2 separate regions of the Homo sapiens genome follow, and region 2 is reported to be linked to region 1. The links are microRNA targets in miRTarBase. Many come from high-throughput screens and were not tested one by one. Region 1 holds a microRNA gene; the other region holds the end of a gene's coding sequence.

The links. The annotated mature microRNA hsa-miR-3681-5p reads UAGUGGAUGAUGCACUCUGUGC and lies in region 1 at 5,110-5,131, shown strand. An mRNA with a match to its seed (bases 2 to 7 or 8) in the 3' UTR can be bound and repressed. Matches are read on the target gene's strand: a 7mer-m8 pairs with bases 2 to 8, a 7mer-A1 pairs with bases 2 to 7 and ends in A, and an 8mer does both.
Region 2: miRTarBase lists USP36 as a target of hsa-miR-3681-5p. Seed matches in the 3' UTR shown: 7mer-A1 at 5,079-5,085.

What each region holds. Positions count from the first base shown.
Region 1 is chr2:12,194,029-12,204,819 of GRCh38, forward strand. MIR3681 (microRNA 3681) reads left to right here and starts at 5,102; the gene lies at 5,102-5,173. The region is part of intron 3 of MIR3681HG (MIR3681 host gene); the gene reads left to right.
Region 2 is chr17:78,791,062-78,801,852 of GRCh38, forward strand. It overlaps USP36 (ubiquitin specific peptidase 36), which reads right to left. Exons shown (of 21, transcript NM_001385174.1): 18 at 8,606-8,707; 19 at 7,847-7,962; 20 at 7,339-7,490; 21 at 4,591-6,818. The coding sequence ends at 7,359. Among named protein-coding and RNA genes, the nearest start is that of CYTH1, 14 kb to the left of the region's middle. RefSeq lists an enhancer at 214-383.

The sequences.
Region 1 (10,791 bases):
GGGCCTTTAAGAGATGTTGAATGCCATTATCAGAGAGTGGGTTCCTTATAAAAGGATGAGCTCAGGCCCCTCTTTCTCTTGCTATCACCACTTCTTTGCCCTTCCACCATAAGATGATGCAGAAAGAAGGCCCTCACAAGAGGCTGGCACCTGATCTTGGACTTTCCAGCCTCCAGAACTGTGAGACACAAATTTCTGTTCTTTATAAATTACTCAGCCTGAGATATTCTGTTATAGGAGCACAAAACAGACTAGGACAGTTGGCAAGGATATGGAGAAATTGGAAAACTTGTTCACTGTTGGTGGAAATGTAAAATGGTTGAGCCATTATGGAAAGCAGTATAGAGGTTCTTTAAAAATAAAAATAGAATTATCATATATTCCAGAAATCCCACTTCTGGGTATATAGCTAATAGACATAAAATCAGGATCTTAAAGAAATATTTGTTTGATATCTGCACTCTTACGTTCACTGCAACATTATGTATAATAGGCAAAATATGGCCACCTTTGAATTAGTGCTGAAAGCTCACTTTAATCTTTTCTTCCAGATCTGGGGTATTTCAATTCAAGTCTCAAGAACAGGGATCTGCTTTTCCTGTATCTGACTGTGCCTTTAACTGGCTGTACAACCTTGGAAATCGTCCTTTCTATGCTGCAATTTCTTCAGTGAGGAAATAAGTATAGTCATAGCTAGGTGATCATTGGCATCTTGACCCATAAATATATCTTCTCCAACATCATGCAGGCTGGAGTCATCACAGGTACCTGAGAACCGTGCTGCTACCTTGGCTAGGGACAGGTATTCAAGGATGTGTGCAATCTTCTATTCCAGAGCAAGGTAGCTAGTTCCATTGCCACTTACTGCTTTGTGGTGTTCCTAAGTGGGGTTGAAGCAACTTTTATACAGAACATGTTTTGATTCCACTGACTTTAACAAAGGGGATTTCCCAGATGGAGCAGGGTTGAATTGTTTGGTGGACCCAGTTTCCATGCCACAACATACACTCACCCATGATCTCCTTCACAAGAAAATAGGAATGCATCATTGTTCTTTTGCACTCAAAAGCATTTGCAATTGGCACTCCTGTCTGTCACAGTGACATGGATTGACCTACCCTCTGCAATCTATATGACTCCTAGGAACCATGGGACAGAAATTACAGTCGTTGAGAGGTCTCATGACATTCAGCTAGCCCATTCATCAAGGTCTCCACTTGCTTGCAAATTACACCCTGTTGCTCTCATCAAATGAGTCAGTGAGTTGAGGACATGCACAGTTTTTGCTTTAAAATACAAATTGAAAATGGCAGGAGGGATCTTGTCAGACAAGACATTAATGAAAAATTTGAAATATTCTGTAAAATCGAATGTTGTACCGTTTCATTAAAATTTAGTGAACTAATTCCAATATAGACATTTATAGATAGTAAACATTTTTATTACTGATTTTTATGTTTTATGAGCTCAAATTGATCTAAATTTCTCAAAGAAAGGCTAAGAATAAAGAAAAGAGCAGGCAGTAGAGGCATGTGGGAGGAGTTGCTCATACTAATTCTGAAAATGGGTTATCATCTTCATTTGTGTAGTCCTGCATATAAACGTAGAAAGATTTACAAAAAACCAATTTTCACTACGATTTTAAAATATCTTGAAGCAAAAACACAGCCTTCAATTTTGATAACATTTTTGTGTGATTAGATAGTTAAACTACATGAGGAAAAAGTGCTACATTTGGATTGGAAGAAAGAACAGAAACAACTCTAGAATGTATTGAGAATGCAGTTTGTATGGGGCTCAGTGTCTCTTTGAGAGTCCAAGTCACCTCTTTCTGCAGAGCAAGAGCTTGATATTTGAAGCCAACTTGAAGCAGCTCTGCCTTGACCAGTGGAGGTTCACAAAAGCCTAAATATCCTCTTTATTTGTAAAATGGGATTATTGCAGAACCCATCTTGTAGAGTTCAGTAAGAGTCAAATACAATATGACCTGCTAAATACCCAGCACTTTCTGAGACCCTTGATTAATTGTAACTATGATTTACTTTATCTTTCCTAGGGTGGCAGCTGTAGTCTTCACTTGAAATTTTGATTTTTATTCCGTTCCCAAGTAGACATGATAAACTATAGCTAATTAAATGGTTGTGTTGTATAAAATGAAAACAATCAGCAACCCAGAAAATATCACCCCATCTTGAATATACAAAACATAGGCACAAACTTTGTCTAGTGAGCATGAAATGGTTTCTTATTCCCAGGTGGGCGATGTTGCCAGAAAAAGACAACATTTATTTCCAGCCTTTATAGTTCAGGAGATATTTGAAAGTGAGATATAAGGGAAAAAAATTAAATCCAGTGCTGGAAGCAAGTCATTCAGACAGGACCCTATCTTCTGGGTAAAAGAAGGACAGTAATGTCCCTCCTACCCCCACCACACACACACAGTAGTCAAGCAGAAGGCGTTTGGATGAGAATACACAAGGAAGTCCAGCTTCCTTGAACAATTTTTGTGTGCTTGCAAGATAGCAGTAAAAATATAACTGAGCAATGGAAGTGGTTTGTGTGTGAGCCCTGAGAAAAGAACTGGGACATTAGTGAGGCTGAGAACTTGCCAAAGCAAAAATGCTAGAGGCAAAGGTCACTAGTAAAAATGAGGTGAAACTTAGACACAGAGAGCAGATGTACTTCAGTAATTACTCACAGCCTAGGCAGTGGATACTGATGCTTGTCACTGGGTATAACTAAGGGGTAGACCAGTGCCTACTGTGCTGTTTATAAATGAAGTTTAGTGTTTTTTACCCCCTTCCCCTAAAATTCCCCGACCTTTTAAAATTCTTTGGAAGCTTAAACATCTTTTATAGGTAGGTGTGTTAGTCCATTTTTATGCTGCTGATAAAGACATACCCAAGACTGGGTGAATTATAAAGAAAAGAGGTTTAATGGATTCACAGTTCCGCACGGCTGGAGGGAATCATCACAATCATGGTGGAGGGAAGGAGGAGCAAGTCACATCTTACATGGTGGCAGGAAAGAGAGAACTTGTACGGGGGGAACTTTGCTTTATAAGAACATCAGATCTCATAAGGCTTATTCATTATCCTGAGAACAGCACAGAAAAGACCTGCCCCCAGGATTTGATTACCTCCCACTGGGTTCTTCCCAGGACACATGGGAATTTTGGGAGCTACAATTCAAGATGAGATTTGGGTGGGGATACAGCCAAACCATATCAGTATACTTAAAGAGAGAGGCAGGAAATGAATGGTTTTAGTAGTATTGCTCACACTTAGCATTTCAGTGCTGTGACAGGGTAGGTAGTGCAAAGTGAGGGAACTAAGTTTGTGGGGAAACTGCTATCTACTGCTACATGACAGTATTACCACAAACCTGGAAGCTGGAAGCCACACACATTTATTATCTCAGAGTTTCTGTGGATTAGGAGTCTGGGCATGCGTTAGTTGGGCCCTTTTTAAGGTTGCAAACTAGGTGTCAGTAAGAACTGAGTACTCATCTGAGGCTCAACTGGGGAAGGATACACTTATAGGCTTAGATGGTTACTAGTAGCATTGAAATCCTTACAGGCTGCTGAACTGAGGGCCTCAGTTTCTTGCCAGTTGTCCTCAATTTTTTGCCACATAACTGTCCATAGGGCAGTGCACAACATGACAGCTTGTTTTCTCAAAACCAAGAGGAAAGAGAGTTTTTCGGTGTGATAGTCATTACAATCTTATACAACATTGTGAAGGAAGTGAAATCTGTTCCTTTCGCTGTATTCCATTGGTTAGAAGCAAGTCGAACGTCCCACCCACAGTCAAGTGTGTGAGTTCTACAGCAGCATGACTCCAGGAGGAGCACATCATGGGCGCCAACTTAAGTCTGGTCAACAAAACTACTGTGGATGGAGAACTATAAAGACATTGAATAATTAATTTTTTAATTTCACTCTGAGGCACATATTAATATGATTTTACAGATGAGTAAGACGAGCTTCTCAAATATGAAGACCCTTATTACTCCGCACTTGGTCCATAGCAACTCCCTGTAAACTTGTTTCTTTCCTTCTAGAAAATCCTCTCCAGTTCCATTTTCTACACAGCAACTAGAATGACAAAACAAATGTGATCACATCCATGTTCTGTTAAACAACCTTAGTGCTCCTCTTACCTCTTTAACATGATGGATACCATTGGCCCTTCATTAAATTGTCCTCAAACTACTGAAGCTTATAGTTTTTGGGGTCCCCTGGTGCCGTCCCCACAATGCACAATGCTCCTACACTTCCCCCATCTGAATGCAGGCCTCTTTTCCCTGCACACACTGAGCTTCATCTTCCTGACCCTCGGAGTTATCTGAGGCACCTGACTCCAGGTTCTAGAAAGTGAGATTCTCCATTATTTCTTCTCCCCACATTCCCTGGGCCTCACCTACCTGGAGATTATCTAGAGCTCTCAGCATGCTGCATGAAGAGCCTCCAGGTTTGAGTGGACCCCAGCTCCTGGGAGGCTCTCAGACTCCTTAGGAGCAACCCCAGTGACACCTTTCAGCATCAGGCGTCACTGCTGCATGCTCATTTCCTTCGCCAATCACTGCATAAACATGATTTATCTGTTGTACAGAGAGGCAACAGAAGCATTAGAACATTTGAGCTCCTTTTCCTGGTTGGCTGGAGGGGGCACTTACTTCTAGTAAGCGAGGTATTTAACATCTCTAGTCTATCATACACCAATTATTTAATATTAATTTTTATACATGCAACATTGGAGGACTAGGATTTGCTTACCTGTAAGGCCTTTTCTATCAGGATAGCATACTTTAAAGAGCCTGGAGAGGAACATAATTTTCCTTTTAAAAATAACAATTCCTGCCACGGAAGATGAATCCTGTAAGCATGCGAGCAGAGAAGCTGTACTGGATGAAGAAATCCTGTGCCCCTTTGGGTTCCCTTCACTATCTGACTGTCTCCTTCCCTCTAAAGCACAGCCTGCCTCCCAGACCTGCTTACCAACAACCTCTGATGGGACGTCCACGAGATGGCTGGAAGTCCCCAGCCTGCCTGGCTCACAAGCCCTGCACACCAAGCCCATCTTCAAGGAGACACTTGTCTACTTCCAGTAGTGGATGATGCACTCTGTGCAGGGCCAACTGTGCACACAGTGCTTCATCCACTACTGGAAGTGTCATGAGCTACTGTTCAGGAGTCCAGTGCAACCTGGAATTCTGAGGGTGTTAACTGTCCAAGTGGCAAATGGATCAATGGAAACAGGAAATAGGAAGGAGCTAGCTGGGTTATTCCCCCTCCTGTGTTTCTCCCATGTGCTACCCCAAGACAGAGATATTCGTTGTAATTTTCCTGGACAAGCCTAGGGCTGCCAGTTGTAACTTCAAGGCTTGTGGGGAAGGAGCAGCAAGGTGATGCATCACTTCACCTGGCATCCCAGATTTCTTTGCCTTTACTTCACTTCTTCCTCTCTTTCCTGGGTTTGCACATCCCAAATAAAGTCTTAGGTTTTTTTGTCTCAATGGCTCAGGCTAAGACAGAAGCCCAACTGTGAAGGCTACTCACGTTCTCACCCTGCTGTATCGTAGAATGGAGCTGAAATACAAAATTGAGATTCAACACATTCAGTCCCGACCAGAAACATTTCAAGGAAATCTGTGCTCACAGCAAGATTGAGTGATGGGACACAGCGCTTGAGATTTCAAGGCAAATGCTTTTTATGTCGTACTCAACATGATTAGCTTCACACGTTACCAAAAAAAAAAAAAAAAAAAAAAAAAACAAAAACCAAAAAAACCCCACAAAAAACTGACTCATAAAACATGTATTGATGTTGCATTTGGGAACAGCTGCAGCCAGCCTGTGTGCAGAAATACACAAAAATGATTATCTTCCTAAAATCAATCTTTGCAGTTCTGGAAGAAGACAGAAGACGGAAATAGCTCTTTGTGGAGCTGAGTGACATGTTCTGGCCAGGCATTCTTTGTTAATATAACAGATGAGAATTAGACAAATTGGAGCTGGAAAGCGCTCCTGTCATAATGTGGCTGATGGGTCTGTGGAACAGCAGCAGCCATGCCTGCAGGATGTGCTCACTGCTTTCCTGAGCTCCTTTTAAATAATCCAAGCTGTGACACTTCCCTAAGTGGAAGCTGATCTCTAAATTAGGTGAAATGTTAATATTATGTAGTTTAATCCATCCTTGAAGTCAGAGAGTTTGCAGAGGGGGTGGCTTGGGAGCCTCCTGATGGATTGTTCATTCATTCTTTCAGGCATTTATTCATTCATGTATTGAATTCAGAACTGCCCAGTAGAGCTTTCTGCTGTGATGAAGGGTCCCATAACAGCACTTTCTGATACTGTAGTCGCTAGCCATTTGTGACTACTGAGCACTTGAAATGGGGGTACAAGATGAATTTTTTATTGTATATGATTTCAGTTAATTTAAATTTGAGTAGTTAAATGTGGCTAGTGGCTACCGTATTGGATGGTGTAGCTAAACATTCATTCATTTAAAAATATTTACTGGATATCTACTAAAAGGCCTCTTAGAAGGTGCTTGGTAAATATTTTAGGGGAATAGTGGGTACTCAATATATATATTTTTAGTGACATGAGGAAGGCAAGCTGGGTCCACAAATATTTTTAGTAAAACAGGGACTAAATATTGTAAAACACACATACAATTTTATGAGACTAGATATACATATATCTGATGATAGAATAACTTATTTTATTAATTTATTTTTAATTCTATTGGTTTAAAATGGGCAAGGCAAAGATTAGGTATCTCTTCATGTCAAAGATATATTTGTGTTGAACCTGGAATGGAATTCCAAGCAGAGAGAACAGAGAAGGATGAGTAAAGGGTCCCAGAAATAGCTCTTTGGTTCATAGTGGATAAGACAAGAAGGGTCTAGAGGTTACACAAAGAGGCATAAGGATTGTGCACTATTTCCATCCAGGAAATATAAAGGCAAATTTTCAGCATGTTCAGATTAGAAAATTTATTGTAAGAAAAAAAAAAAAAAAAACACAAGAGAATTTCTGATTAGGATACAGAAGTTGTAATCACAAGTTGTTCATCAATCTTTTGTCATCCCCCAAACAAACATTGGTGGCTTTTCCAATGGCCTAGATCTACCGACTGAATTATGGCAAGAGAGTCCCAGGCAAAAATCACAGGACCCCTTGTCCTTAGCAGATTGTCTCAAGCACCACTTACTTAAATGGGTAGAGTCAAGTTCCCCATAAACAGCAAACAGTGATATGGCCTGGTGTTCACATTTGAGGAATTATTATTTTATACTAGTAGCAGCGATAAGTTTTTGAGTATAAGTAGTGATGATCACATTCTAATTGAGCCACAATTTCAGTTTTTGAAAATGGAAATTGTGGTGTGGGGACAGAGTTTCTTTATCTTCAAAGGAGAGAAATCTTTGCAAAAGTCAAGTCATAGATGACTATCATCCAGTAACAAGAAAAAGGAAGCAATCTTCCTGAACTTCCCCTTCTGCCTGCCAATGTTAACAAGAATAGCAGGAGAGCCGTGTTTGAGCTCATGGTGACCCTGCACATGACAACCAACGTTGCATTTAACCTTCACAGTCCCATGAGGTAGATCAGAAAAGTCTGAATTTATGGGTAAAGAAGTCGAGCTCTGCGCAGGCTCACAGCATTTTTTAAGGTTATACCGTGAGTCTGTTTCAGACGAAGTGAAGTTGGTCCTACTCCAGATCTGTTTGTTGTCTTCTAAGAGATCATGCCTCTCTTAAGCTATCCATTGCCCACGGTCTCAAGTGTCACAGTACAACTTCACAAGCTGATGAGTAAGAAAAAAATAAGACAATTATGTAGATGATGATAATGCATGGTGGAGTGTGACGATATCCTTAAAGAAAATGTTTATGGAATTTAAGTCCAAGCCAGGATGGGGGCACATGTGGTTGAATGGAACAGGGGGCTTCATGGAGCAGGTCAAACGCAGGTGAGATTCGACTGTAGAGTAGAGGGAGTGTGTGGGTTGCTGGGGAGAGAGGCAGGCAGCCGAAATGACAGAAATACTTACTGAAATATCTGTGTCCCTTTCGGCTGGAGACTGAGAGGGAGACTACATCTGTGAATTAAGTGTAACAGAATGCTCTGTGGCTGAAAAGAATCCTCACGTGTACTTAATATATGTTCACTTAGAAGAAGGTAAAACCTGCCATTTCATAGCTTACAAATCTCTCTCTATATCTGTGTTTGTGTGTGTGTGTGTGTGTGTGTGTGTGTGTGTTTAATCTACCAAATAATTCAGAATTTAAATCTGGGCCAGATTAAGTCTTTGTTTCATTCAAAGATATTAATTAAGCGAACTTGGCCGGGCACTGAAGGTAGGCAAAGGAGAAGAATGTGGCTCCTGCAGCCCTGGAGCTCAGGAATCTGTTTGGAAAGACAAGCGTTGCCTGTGCTGTAAAGAAACACAGACTTACGTAAGAATGGTGCAAGGAAAACAACTGGTTTCAAATATGTAAAGAATTTCTGGGGGAGGATGCTGTTCAATTTTCTCTCTCTTGGGAGGATAGAAGAGGAGCGAATGGTTTTACATCGGAGCCAGTGTGTATAGTTAGTAAGTAGGAAGCCCGATCCTGTTTATCAACTCAGATGTAAACATTGCAAAGGCCAGAGGTGGTCCTGACATTGCTTGGGGATGCTGGAGGGGAGTCCTCAGAAGGTCACCTGGAGGTGCTTGAAGGATAGGAGGAGTTTGGGAGACTCAAAAATGAATGGTAGGACGGAGAGAGATCGTTGTCCAGACAGATGGAATAGCATGTGTGAAGGCGCTAGTGCCGAGAATCACTTTAGGTTCTTGGCCTTCTTCAACAATGGAAAGGAGGCCCCTGGTGCTGAAGTGTGAGGATAGCAAAGCAGACAGCAGCAGGAGGAGAGGCTGGAGAATGTCCAAAGGCCAGAGTGCTCACAGCTTTACTGGGAGGAGAGAAGATTTTCCCCTGAGCACCATGAATCTATCTGTTCTACAAATGCAAAGCAAATGCCGCCTATTCTCAGGAAAACTAAAATCATCTTGAACCCTAACACAGGAAAAAGAAATATTCCAAAAGTTGCAATGAAGTTTGCAGAGAATAAAGTTCCCTAAAAACACACAGAATTTGCAAACTGTAAACCTAGCTCCTCAATGTATGCATCAGAATTCAGGTCAATTTTGATTTGCTCTTGGAGAGAGTAAGCCTCTGCATGTTTTTGTTCATGCATTTGCTTATCGGAGCCTGAGTACCAGGAGCCACATGGCTAAAGGCGAAGCATGCATGGCTGCTTTCCATTTACTTCTAGCTGGAGACCATGTAAAAGGACAGAATCAGAGTTTTTCCTGCTGCACGGTTGATGTCCTGCTCACAGTATTCAAGACTAAGTAACCTCAAATGTACTGGAGTTCAAACATTTTGCTCCGATGAAATTTTATTTTCCTTTTTGGACTATAATTCAGGACCACATTCTTGTGGGTGATAATGGGGTTCCCCCAAAGAGGAAGTAGATATTTCCATTATCAATCCTGCTGGAATAGGATGGTGGGGGGCAATGTTGGACAGAGAAGACAAAGCTCTTTTCTCTTTGAGGTCACATGAGAGTTAGGCATGAGAACTCTCATGAGAGACAAAGCAGCTTGCTCCCTGTTATATGAAGGCTGATAAGGATCACAGAGAGTCAGGCCAGGATCACAGAGAGAGAGAGGCCAGGATCTCAGAGCAAAAGTCCCATCAGAACCACAGAGGATCAGGCCAGAATTGCAGAGGGAGAGGCTGGCCAGAAGTACAATGAGGATGCCAGGATCGCAGAGAGGCCACACTGCATGGGATGGAGAGATGGTGGATCTGAGTTTGTGGACACTGAACGTTATGAGATATTTTAACCGTTGCAACTTATCCTCTGTGTTGTTCTTTTATTCTGTTTTCTGGGTAGTGTATTGCCTGCATAAGGGAAAAGCGTGGGGGCTGGAAATGCAGCTGAGCAGAAAACCTTGGAGCACTTGTTTCTCATCTCACATGAAGTAGGGGAGTTAATGGGAACCTGGGTGTGGGAGGGGCTGAAGGATGGGGATCTTGCTTTGTAATGTGAGAATGTAAGAAGAACGTGACCTTCTACTGTTTTCCTAGGTTGGAGGGGACCGGCCAAACCCCAAGGAAAGTGGAGAGAAGAAAGGCATGGAGGGGTTCTGTGGAGGGTGTGGAAAGGGAGGATGTGTAAATCCCAGCGTGGGTTTGGAGAACCTAAGTAGGTTGGCTTCCCTGGGGTTTAAATCACAGAGGTGTTGGGAGGTGAGCCCGAAATGGAAATAGGCCGCATCTTGAAGAATCCCACGTGCGGTGCTGAGAAGTTTGCATATGGAACAATGGACTAATTTTAAACAGGGGAATGGCATAGTCAGATTTGGATTTCCAACAGATTGCTCCAGTTTCAGTGGAGAGAATGAAGCAGAGGCGGGATCTTTGGTGGCAACTGTGCAGGTGCAAGGCGAGGAAAGTGCAGCCTAGGTGAGTGAGAGTAAAACTAGGGAGGAAGAGTTGGATATCTGATATGGCAGGAGTGGAACCATAGAAACTGGAGATGCGTTGGGTCGATGGATAGAGGTTTGAGTTTCCCAGTTAATGGACGTACTTCTTTGCAGCCATTCTGAGCAACCAGCATTATCTATCTCAAAAGGATGAACAAATGTTTCTCCCAGTCAAATTGTCTAACTTCCTAGTTAGTGTGAGTTTATATCTAGGTTGTTCAAATATTCATCTAGCAATTATTAG
Region 2 (10,791 bases), not on the chromosome of region 1:
GCAAATTCATGATGCTAACTCATGGCAGACCCCTTAGAACACAGGTCTTGATTCCCAATCTGGCCTTCTTTTTTTTTTTTTTTTTTTTTTTAGCTGGAGTTTCGCTGTTGTTGCCCAGGCTGGAATGCAATGGTGCGATCTCGGCTCACCGCAACCTCCACCTCCCGGGTTCAAGCGATTCTCCTGCCTCACCCTCCCAAGTAGCTGGGATTACAGGCATGCACCACCATGCCCGGCTGATTTTGTATTTTTAGTAGAGACGGGGTTTCTCCATGTTGTGTCCTGACCTCAGGTGATCCGCCCCGCCTAGGCCTCCCAAAGTGCTGGGATTACAGGCATGAGCCACCGTGCCCGGCCCTGGCCTTCTTTTTATAGGAAGTCATGATTCAAACCTGACTCCAGCCTGACCCTACTTTAATCCCTTTAAAGCAGCAAAAATATACAGCAGTTTCCCCTTGAGAAAGCAACTTGAAGCAACAGTTTGGTACAGATTCTGCTAAGAACAAGCACATTTTTAATCTCAGGCCCCTCTCACAGGGCAATTTCCTCAATGCCTGGAGTGCTTTCTGAGATCCCAGAACAACGGGCTGGACAGCTGCCCAGAGGCCTCTAGGGGGCTGTGGAAGGCTGAAGAGGCAGGGGGGATCTGGATCACAAAATAGAGGAGACTATTTTCTCTGAACAGGAGTGAGAAACCTTATGTTGGGGAATGATTAGATTCTGGTTTCTTGCCTTAAAAGATTGTCCTGGAGGCCAGGCACAGTGGCTCACACCTGTAATCCCAATGCTTTGGGAGGCCAAGGCGAGAAGATTATTTGAGGCCAGGATCCTATACTGAGGGGGCACCTCTTTCAGTGTCTACAGTAGAGATCCTGACAGAGGGTGGATCGGTCGGCTGTTCAGTGGGATGTATTGACTGGATCAGTTGATTCTGGGCTTGATCTAGAGTATGCAGCAAATGCAACAGGCTCACATCTTAGAGGAGCTCTCCAGGGTGCGGAGGTCAACAGTGTCAAATCCTGGGAAGAAGTCGGTGGCAAGAGTGGGAATTAGGTCACTGAGAAGTGATGATGGCAGAAGCTAGACTAAGAACCACAGAGAGTCAACACAGAGCAAAATGAATGTCAACCAAAGGAGAGGGCAGCTGAGAGGGGACACAAGGACACACAGGCTTTTTAGGATGGGAGATGCCTGAACATGTTCCTAAGGGAAGAGTGAGACACGGGAGCAGACAGGGTAATTAATGGAGCAAGGTCCCCAGGGTGGAAGAAGTTGGCCTCAAGGGCACAGGTGGGGTGCCAGCATACACAGAGGGGGCACCTCGTCCAGCATCTCCAGTAGAGGTCCCCACAGAGGATGGGGAACAGCCCCTATACTACAGTTCCTTCCCACTCTCCCACACCAACCACCCAGCCCCTCTGGGAGGCATCAGATCAGAACAGTGGGTCTGCCCAGCAGCAGCCCCGGGGACTATTGGACATGCACATTCTCAGGCCTCATCCCAGACCTGCTGAATCAGAATGCGGGGGAAGGAGCCCGGCAACTGGTGTTTTAAGGAGCCCCTGGCAATTCTGGTGCTCACTTGAGTTTGAGACCAGGGACCAGGATGGCAACTCTCAACTCTGCTGCTCACTATGATCCCCCCGGGAAGGTTTTTTTTGTTGTCGTTGTTTTTGAGACAGAGTCTCACTCTGTCGCCCAGGCTGGAGTGCAGTGGCATGATCTTGGCTCACTGCAACCTCCACCTCCCAGGTTCAAGCAGTTCTCCTGCCTCAGCCTCCCAAGTAGTTGGGATTACAGGCACAGGCCAAGCCCAGCTAATTTTTGTATTTTTAGTAGAGACAGGGTTTCACCATGTTGGTCAGGCTGGTCTCGAACTTCTGACCTCAAGTGATCCGCCCGCCTCAGCCTCCCAAAGTGCTGGGATTACAGGTGTGAGCCACCGCGCCCGCCCCCCTCACCCCCCCAGGAAGGCTTTAAATGCTGATGCCTAAGCCTCACCCATAGATTCTGATTCTACTTCCGTCAGTATCGAATGCCTCTCCCCAGGTGCTCCTGCTGCCCTATGAGCATTGAGAACCCTGAGGTAAGAAGGAGAAGAGAACAGAGGGAGAGGAGCTGGTTTTAGCTTTGGTTTCCCCATGTTGTTTAATTTTGGGGTGGGATGGGAATTCTTGAGGTAGCCTTGGAAGTCACTTACCAAGAGTAGTGGGCACATATGCAATGAGAGAGCAAAATAGTGTGCAGGGATCACTGAAAAGAATGGGAGAGAGAGGAAGGAGTTGCCTGAAGACCAAGGGCAGAAATCCCAAAAGGCAGGCAGAGCCCAACGAAGAAGGGCAGCCAGACAGCCCTGAAAGCCGAATCCATGGCACCCAGATGATCTTCTCCAAGGGTCATCCCCAGTCCAGATATGGAAGGAGCAGGGGGCCAAGCCAAGGCGGGATCTGCACGAAGCAGCAGCAGGGCCACCTCCGGGCAAGAGTGTGACTCCAGGGAGTCAGCTCAGCTGACAAGACACAGAAAGCTGCCCGTCTGCATGTCACGTGACCTGTCCACACACAGTCCTCCTTTACCACCACGTCCTTGGCGTACCCACATCCTCATTGCGCTGAGGTTGTCCAAGCTACCAAGACTTGAGGCAGGGATTCTCACAGCACCGTCCAGTGTTAAACTGCCCTTAAGGTCACTATTACAGTTATGATGAGCCCTAACAGTATGTTAGGGATAAACAGATGCCCACCTGATTCCCCAGTGTCCAGACACCTGGGCTTTTTCCTAACTAGAAGACTCGGAGTTCACCCACTGCCTACTTCCCATGCCTAGGATTCTCCCTGGGTTCCCTGTACTGGTAAGATGCCAACACGTCCACTAAGTCAGATTGAATCTCTCACCACCTGAAGGCCTTCCTGAAACCATCGGTGAGCCGCTTGCTTCCCTGGCTACTACTTGGCCTCCGAACCCAACTAACCACCCTAGCAGAAATCATCTTAAACTCCACCCAGAACATTCCACCCTATCTGTCATCTCACCTCTTGAGTCCATCTCCTAAATATCCAAGTGACCTCACTTCTAGCCTATGCTACTAATGCCAATCTCTTAGCTCTAGCCTTGGCCACTTCTCAGCCAACCTGGCGGCTGGTCATGCTCACCTGCTGTTCTCTGCACTCCACCAGCCGCCTTTCAGGCCATCAGGCAGCCTGGAATCCACTATCAGCCTCAGGAGTCTAAAAAGCACATCAGACCTTGGTAACCCTTCTTGTCCAAACTGTCAAACAAAACCTGCCCTGCGCTTTTGCACCTGACTTACAGTTAGCCAGCTGAGTCCTGCTGGCCAGCTCCCACTGCCAGCCCCCTTTCAGAATGTCACCTCACCCCACGGTGCTTCAGGCAGAGCTCATGACAGGCTCCTCATGGCCTCCCTGCATCTCCCTAACAGCACTCACCCTGCCCTGGAGCCGTCAGTCCTGCCGGTGGGACTCTGCCCGCCGCCTGCGAGACGACGTGAGTGTGTTCACTTTTATACACACCCAGAAGTGGCCCTAGTGTTTGGGAAACGGCAGTTAAGAATGGAAAAGCCTGTCAGGCGCGGTGGCTCACACTTGGAATCCCAGCACTTTGGGAGGCCAAGACGGGCAGATCACGAGGTCAAGAGATGGAGATCAGCCAGGCGCAGTGGCTCACGCCTGGAATCCCAGCACTTTGGGAGGCTGAGGCAAGCGGATCACAAGGTCAGGAGTTAAGAGACCAGCCTGGCCAACATGGTGGAACCCCATCTCTACTAAAAATACAAAAATTAGTCAGGCGTGGTGATGCGTGCCTGTACTCCCAGCTTCTTGGGAGGCTGAGGCAGGAGAATTGCTTGAACCCGGGAGGCAGAGGTTGCAGTGAGCGGAGAATCGTGCCACTGCACTCCAGCCTGGGCGACAGAGGGAGACTCTGTTCGGGAAAAAAAAAAAAAAAAAAAAGTAAAAACCACAGCCTCGCCCATGTCGCCACTGCACCCAGCGTTGGTGTCAGATCACCACCTCTCCAAGCCTCAGAACCCCCTCAACCGCTGCCCAGGCTACAACGCAAATGCCTTCAGACACAGCCTGGCTGGCAGGAAGGCCTCTGGGTCAGCAGTGTGCCCTGCTCTCTGCCACCCCTTTGGTTTGGATGCAGGAGCTGCCTCACCTCGCTTGTTCTTACTTGGCTGTCCTCATTTTGGGGTGTCCAGCCAAACCCCTAAAGAGAAGCGAAGACATGATGCCCTGTGTTTGGTGGATACCGTGGGGTGGAGAAAGCTTACTTCCAAGTTGCTAAAGGGAGATGCGGGGAGCCACACACATCAGGTAACAGCTGCAGAGCAGCATTCTCAACAGGAGCCGCTGCACGGCAACCCGCCTGCGCCCCGGGGTTCATTCAGCCTCTTGGTCACCTATTCACTAGGGCTGCTCTCATAACCTCCTGGTCACTGAGCTCCCTGCAGGGACCTACCTGCCCCTCCTAGCCCAGCCTCAACTTCCAGGACAGGTGGAATCAGCGAGACTGTGGTTGGGATGTACTTTAAAAAAAAAAAATCAAATGAAACCAACAAAGACACAGAACTCACAAAACCGGAGTATTTTATTGCACCAAGATCTTGGCAACACGTGGGGCTCCCCAGGCCCCCGGAAAGGAGGTGCAGAGGATGGGACACAGACCTCTGCACACACACAGGTGCGGCCATGCAACCAGGACGCGGGGCAGGCAAGTGAGAGGACCTGGGAGAGGTAGCTGCTGTACACAGGCCCCACTCCCTCCAGCTCCATTCCCAAGCACAAAATTCAACAGACCCAGATCCTAAGTCAACCAAGTGACTGCTATGACAAAGGCTTGGGTTATTGACATTTACTTACATACGTGTACAAGACCTAGAGTTTGAACTCGTTTTCTGGGCCTCATCTTTCCCTTCCCTATCTGGTTGATGACTTCGGTGGAGGGAAGGGACGTGACTCCACCCAACAGTGATAAACGCTGCAGAAAGTCATCTCGTGCTCACCACTGCCCAAGAGTTAACGAATGTATGTACCCCAGGAAAAGGTTTTACAGTTATCTAGTGGAGAAGGGAAGAGACTGATTTGGAGGAGAGAAGGGAGAGAAAGGAACGAGATAAATTCTGTGCCAGCAGACAACTAACATTTTCAACTACAGAACATCACACGGTAAACATGGCAGAGGGAACAGTTCACACAGGAATGCAAGTCAACACCCCGAGAAGAAAAGGAACATACCCTGCCCGTGAAGGCATGTGCTTTCCCTTCCAGATAAGTTACAAAGCCAGAGCACGGAAGCCAGGCCCTCATCTTTGAACATTCAGAGACTGGTCCGCAGGAGAGGGCACCCTGAGCAGCTCCACTCACTGCTGCTGGGACACAGGTGGCCACAGGAGCTTGATTCTCTCCCACCCTTCTAAGAAGAGAAACGTAAAAACAGAAGAAAATCCAAAAAGAGACACCCACCCACATGGAAAAAAATAAATGTATCTTCCCATATTAAAAAAGCAATTCCATCTACACGCCAGTAACCACCCAGGCCCCGAGCACAGGGGCAGGAAGCAAAGCTGCCCCAGGGAGAGGGGGTGCAGACAGCGAGGCAGCCACCCGGGACAGCAGGATGCCTCTGGCCCAGCAGAGCCACACTGAAGGAGGTCTAAGTCCAACACCACGTTGTCCATCTCCACCTGCGACGACTCCGGGAGGAAATGACGGGGACAGACCCGATGAGGAAGGATGTTCACGGTCACCTTCACACTTCCCACTACTATGAGGGCATTTGTCTTTTTCCTGAAAATATCACCTTCTCTGAGGATTTCCTGTATTTATTAAGTTACAAGTTGGCAGGCACAGCTTGAGCAACATAGAAAAGTAATCTTCTTGAGTTATACAATCATTTAAATTCCAAAGCACTCACAAAATTGAGCAAACAAAGCCACTATTTGCATATTTGGGAAAGGAAACATATTGCTAATGGAAGCCACAGGACTGGTCAAAAATAAATGTTTTGTATTAAGTAGTAAAATAAATGGAGAATTCTACCCCAAAGCCTCCACCTCAGTGAAGACCTGCGGGTTATTGCAGCTGCAAGGGAAGCTACAGCACAGTCGTCTCAGAATAAACAGCAGCCTGGAAAGCAGATGTATTCGCAGGTATCGAGGGCTCCTCCGACCCCAAATAGCCTCTGCTCTCCAGGACAGTTGAGAGCTACTCACAAGGAAGGGGTGCACAGTAGGGCCACCCTCTCGAGTTCCATAAAAGGGAGAGGTGGCTGGGTGGGGTCACCTCTTCCTTTCTGAGGACAGGTAAGGCCAACAGATGAAGGGGTCCCGCTGAGGAAGCAGGGGAGGGCGGGCTCGGACACAACGGTGGCGTCAGCCCCGAGAAGCAAGGGATGGCTTGCCCAGAGCCACCAGCTATGCACCGGGAGACCACCTGGGGGACATGTGGCCACCATCCCCCACTCTCCTGATAGCCCCAACCAGGGGCAGCAGCCTCTGCCAGCACAGACCACTGTCTATGAAACATGAGAAGGCACAGCCTGGCAAAGATGTCCAGCAGGTGTGCGGCCACCTCTGCTCACACACACACTGTCGTTTCTCTTGCAGGGCTGGTCGGGAATGTCACCAAAGAGGTTCCGATCTAGAGAAGCCTCAAAGCCTCTGTGTTGGGCGGTCTGTGGACACTGGTACCGGGAGAGCTCCTACCGTGACAGGCTCCCAGCGCAGCAGAGCCCACACAGAGAGCTCCCTCAGATCCAGACCGACAGCTCCCGGGAAGGGACGCCTTGTCTCCAGGAGGCTGCAGAACAAACCACGGTAGTCCTGACAGAGAGAAACGAGACCCGAATCTTCCCACTGCCACCCTCGGGTATGAGTCCAACCTAGGAACCCAATGCATGGCATCTCGATGCGGCTGGCAAGAAGTCACCCTTCTGCAAGTGACTGGGACACATGCCAGATATACACACAACCCACATCCCACACACACCCCACACATGCCCTTCTCCAAGTGACCAGAACACATGCCACAGATGCCAGGTGTACACACCCCACACCCAACACACACTACACACACCCCCTTATACACACGCATCCCACACACACCCCCTTATACACACGCATCCCACACACACCCTTCTCCAAGTGACTAGGACACACACCACAGACGCGCCCACACCACACACACCACCCAACACACATGTGCCAGATACACAGCCCACATACATCATACACACACGCCACACCCCACCACACCCCTACACACATACACGGCACACACACCCCCACCTCACCCTTACACCCACCCCCTCGGAACCGACCTCCTTCCACAGGGGCACAGTCAGCGGCGATAGCTGAGGCTGGCAGCCTTTGCTGGGTGAGTCACAGACCAGAAGTTCCGTCGAGTCTGAAGTTTCTGGAAGGCGTTGAAGTTTCTCCTCTTCTCTCTCTTAAATTTTTTAATTTTCTTTTCCTAGACCAAGAATCACAGGCATCACAGTTCCCAAAAACGGCTCTTTCCTGGCCCACGGGGCTCCATGCTGCATGCAGGTCCTGCACACAGGCCGGGCTCTCATGAGCTCTCTGGAGACCCACTCTTCACAATGACCCCTGTGCACGGCGACCTGCAGTCCCCCTATTGACAAAGGGGCGGAAGCTGCGAGGATGCATGCCCTGTCCATGGCCACACGCCCGGACAGGCCTGGGCAGCCTGGCTCTTCTCATGCTCGGCCGCTTCATGCCACTGCCGCCACCTCCAACTGCCCCGGCTCTGAGCTGAGCCACGCCGCCCTGCTCCCTCAAGCCTGTGGTCAGCATCACACATCATACCTTCCCTCGGTCAAACTCTTCGTCCCAGTCATCAACCACGGTCTCAGTCCGGGCCTGTCTGCTGTCTTCAATAGCATCCTGACTGACCGCCGACATCTTGCCATCCCAGGTCAGAACTACCAGGCAGACACGGGGGTCAGCACGAGTGCAGGTTCCCAGGTCCCCTGTGGCTTCACTTCAAGAGTGTCATTTACCAACTAGTCTACTCATAATTAGTCAACAATTTTGAGTGCCACCTTGTGGTGAAGAGAAGGACAAGAGGAGGACGGCTCGACGCCCATGTGTGGTCGGTCAGCATGGAACCCCCAGCGATGCCCTCTTAGCTAAACCCTAAACCACAGCCAAAGAGTTCAGTTCTTTCTAAACCCATGCCCTCGTCTGAGGAACAAAGATGTCATGTTTGGTCTCGAAGTCTGAATAAAAACATGCTCTGAGCAAGAAGTGACATTACCCAGGTTGGAAGAGCTTCGTCACTCTGCCCCTTCCCTACCCAAGACACAGCATGTGTGGGGCTCCTCACCCTGCCCCAACCCTCAGAAGCAGCTGTTCTGGATCCTGCCACGGACAGAAGCCACCTTCGTGCCACGGCTGAGGGTTTAAAGAGGACTCCAGCCAGTGTTGAGATTCCTCTTCCCATTCTCAAAGCCGAGCGATGCCCGCCCGCCACACTCACAGTGCACCAGGATCCATTCCACACCCTTCCCTCCTACAAAACCAACCAATGAAAGGCAAACAGAAGTCCTGTCTCCAAATCAGTACCTTTTCTCCCGTAAGCTTTATCAGATGAGTATTTGAGCAGTTCCTGGACCACATCAGACTCCCGCTCTCCATTCCAAGACACAGGAGGGGCCTGGCTCAGCCCTGCAATCGGAGCAGCCAAGAAACATTTACAGACGTTTAAAATAACCCACTGGGGAAGCAATCGCACACCTTAAATTATAAAACAACTTACAGTAAGTGGATGCTTGCCTTTTTTTTTTTTTTTTTTTTTTTTTTTTAAAGACAGGGTCTCACTATGTTTCCTAGGTTGGTCTCAAACTCCTTGGGACTCCCACTGGCCTCCCAAGGTGCTGGGATTACAGGCATGAGCCATGGCGCCCAGCCTAAATGCTTATTTACTAATGCTTACATGCTTAATTTACTAATGACCTGACACAATAGAGAAGGCTGTTGTCCAAGTCAATTCATGAGAAAGAAAACATGGAAAATAACAAAAAGCTAAAAACCAAAAAAAAAAAAACCCTCCAAAACCCCTTTAACCAGTAGTGTTAAGTCCTCAGTCTGACAGAAGGAGAGAAGAGAACTAGATCTAAATGGAATCCACCTCACCTACGGGAGAGGCCCATGCCCCAGGACCAGCCTGACACCTGGATGGCCACAGGGGTGGAGGGAACGGCCAAGCTTGGCTGCTGCCATCAGGGGCCCGACCTCCTAAGCCCTGTCCAGGGGGAACCTGGTCCCCATCAGCAACACCGCACAGGTCCACCCAGCACCTCGGGACCAGGACAGCACTCACCACCCTCATCGGGTTCTAGAAACCCTTTCTGAACTCGTCCTCTGCCCAGCTAGCCACATAGCCCCTGGAATATACTCACCTCCCTTCACACAAATCTGACCTCATTTCTCCCTGCCTCCAATTCCTCAGTGAGCTCCAGGCTAAGTGTCCCCTGCCCCCACACAGTGGCTTCCATGGTTCCCATCTCATCCACACAGCCCAGGGACCCGGCCATGCAGAGCAGCCTGCCTGCTCCCAACGTGCTGCGCCTCCTGCCCTTGGGTCTGGTGCCCTGCCCATTTAGCCACTCTCCTCAGGTGCACAGGACTGCAAGAGCCCATGCGGCCCCCAGCGCCTCCTTGCTGAGCATGAGCCCTTACTGTGTGGTTCTGGCTCTGCCAGGGAGCCCCGAGGGCCCAGGGCGCACTTCAGTAGACACAACCAGCACCTGGCATGGACCCTGGCGCACCGCAAGTGCTCAAGTGATGTCCCTTGCACTAACAAGCCAACTCCACTTCGCTCCGAGGGTGGCACGGAGCACAGCTCTGGTGCCATGTTAGGGCAGTATTTTTTTTTTTTTTTTTTTTTTTTTGAGACGGAGTCTCACTCTGTCACCCAGGCTGGAGTGCAGTGGCGCAATCTCGGCTCACTGCAAGCTCCGCCTCCTGGGTTCACACCATTCTCCTGCCTCAGCCTCCCGAGTAGCTGGGACTAGAGGCGCCCGCCACCATGCCTGGCTAACTTTTTGTATTTTTAGTAGAGACGGGGTTTCACCGTGTCAGCCAGGATGGTCTCGATCTCCTAACCTTGTGATCCGCCCGCCTCGGCCTCCCAAAGTGTTGGGATTACAGGCGTGAGCCACCACCCCCGGCCAGGGCAGTACTTCTGAGAGCATGCTGGCCAGCAAACTCAGTCGGCACTAGCTAGCACCCACGTTTTGCTATTTATTTCATACCATTTCATTTTTAACGATAAATTCCTTTCTTAAGAGTTGGATAAATACAAATCAGTCTCTAAGGTCCTGCTGACCCCCAGATGCACTGCCATAATCAGACCTTCCAGACTGCAGAGGAGGCCTCACTCAAGCTCGGCCCCCTATACCAAGCAGCCAGGACTTTCTCTCCCCTTCACTTAACAAATGTGTTCTGTGGCGGGTGCCTGCCAAGGCATGCCCCAGCCAGCCCTAAAGAAAACAAAACACCCTCCGATTGAGGGGTGGTGCCCAAGGACAGCCACAGCACACAGGTCCCCAACAGCAAGCAAACCGTGCTATGTTCTGAATGGCCCAGCTACATAGAGGGAGAGGAGGATTCACTTTTGAACCCAACTCTTCTAAATTCAACCATCACAGAAAAAAACTCAGGCTGGGAGTTCAGGGAGTCATTCCGTGAGAAGCTGTAGACAGAACAGCTTTGAATCGGAAGACCCACTGGCATTCACAGAATGTTTT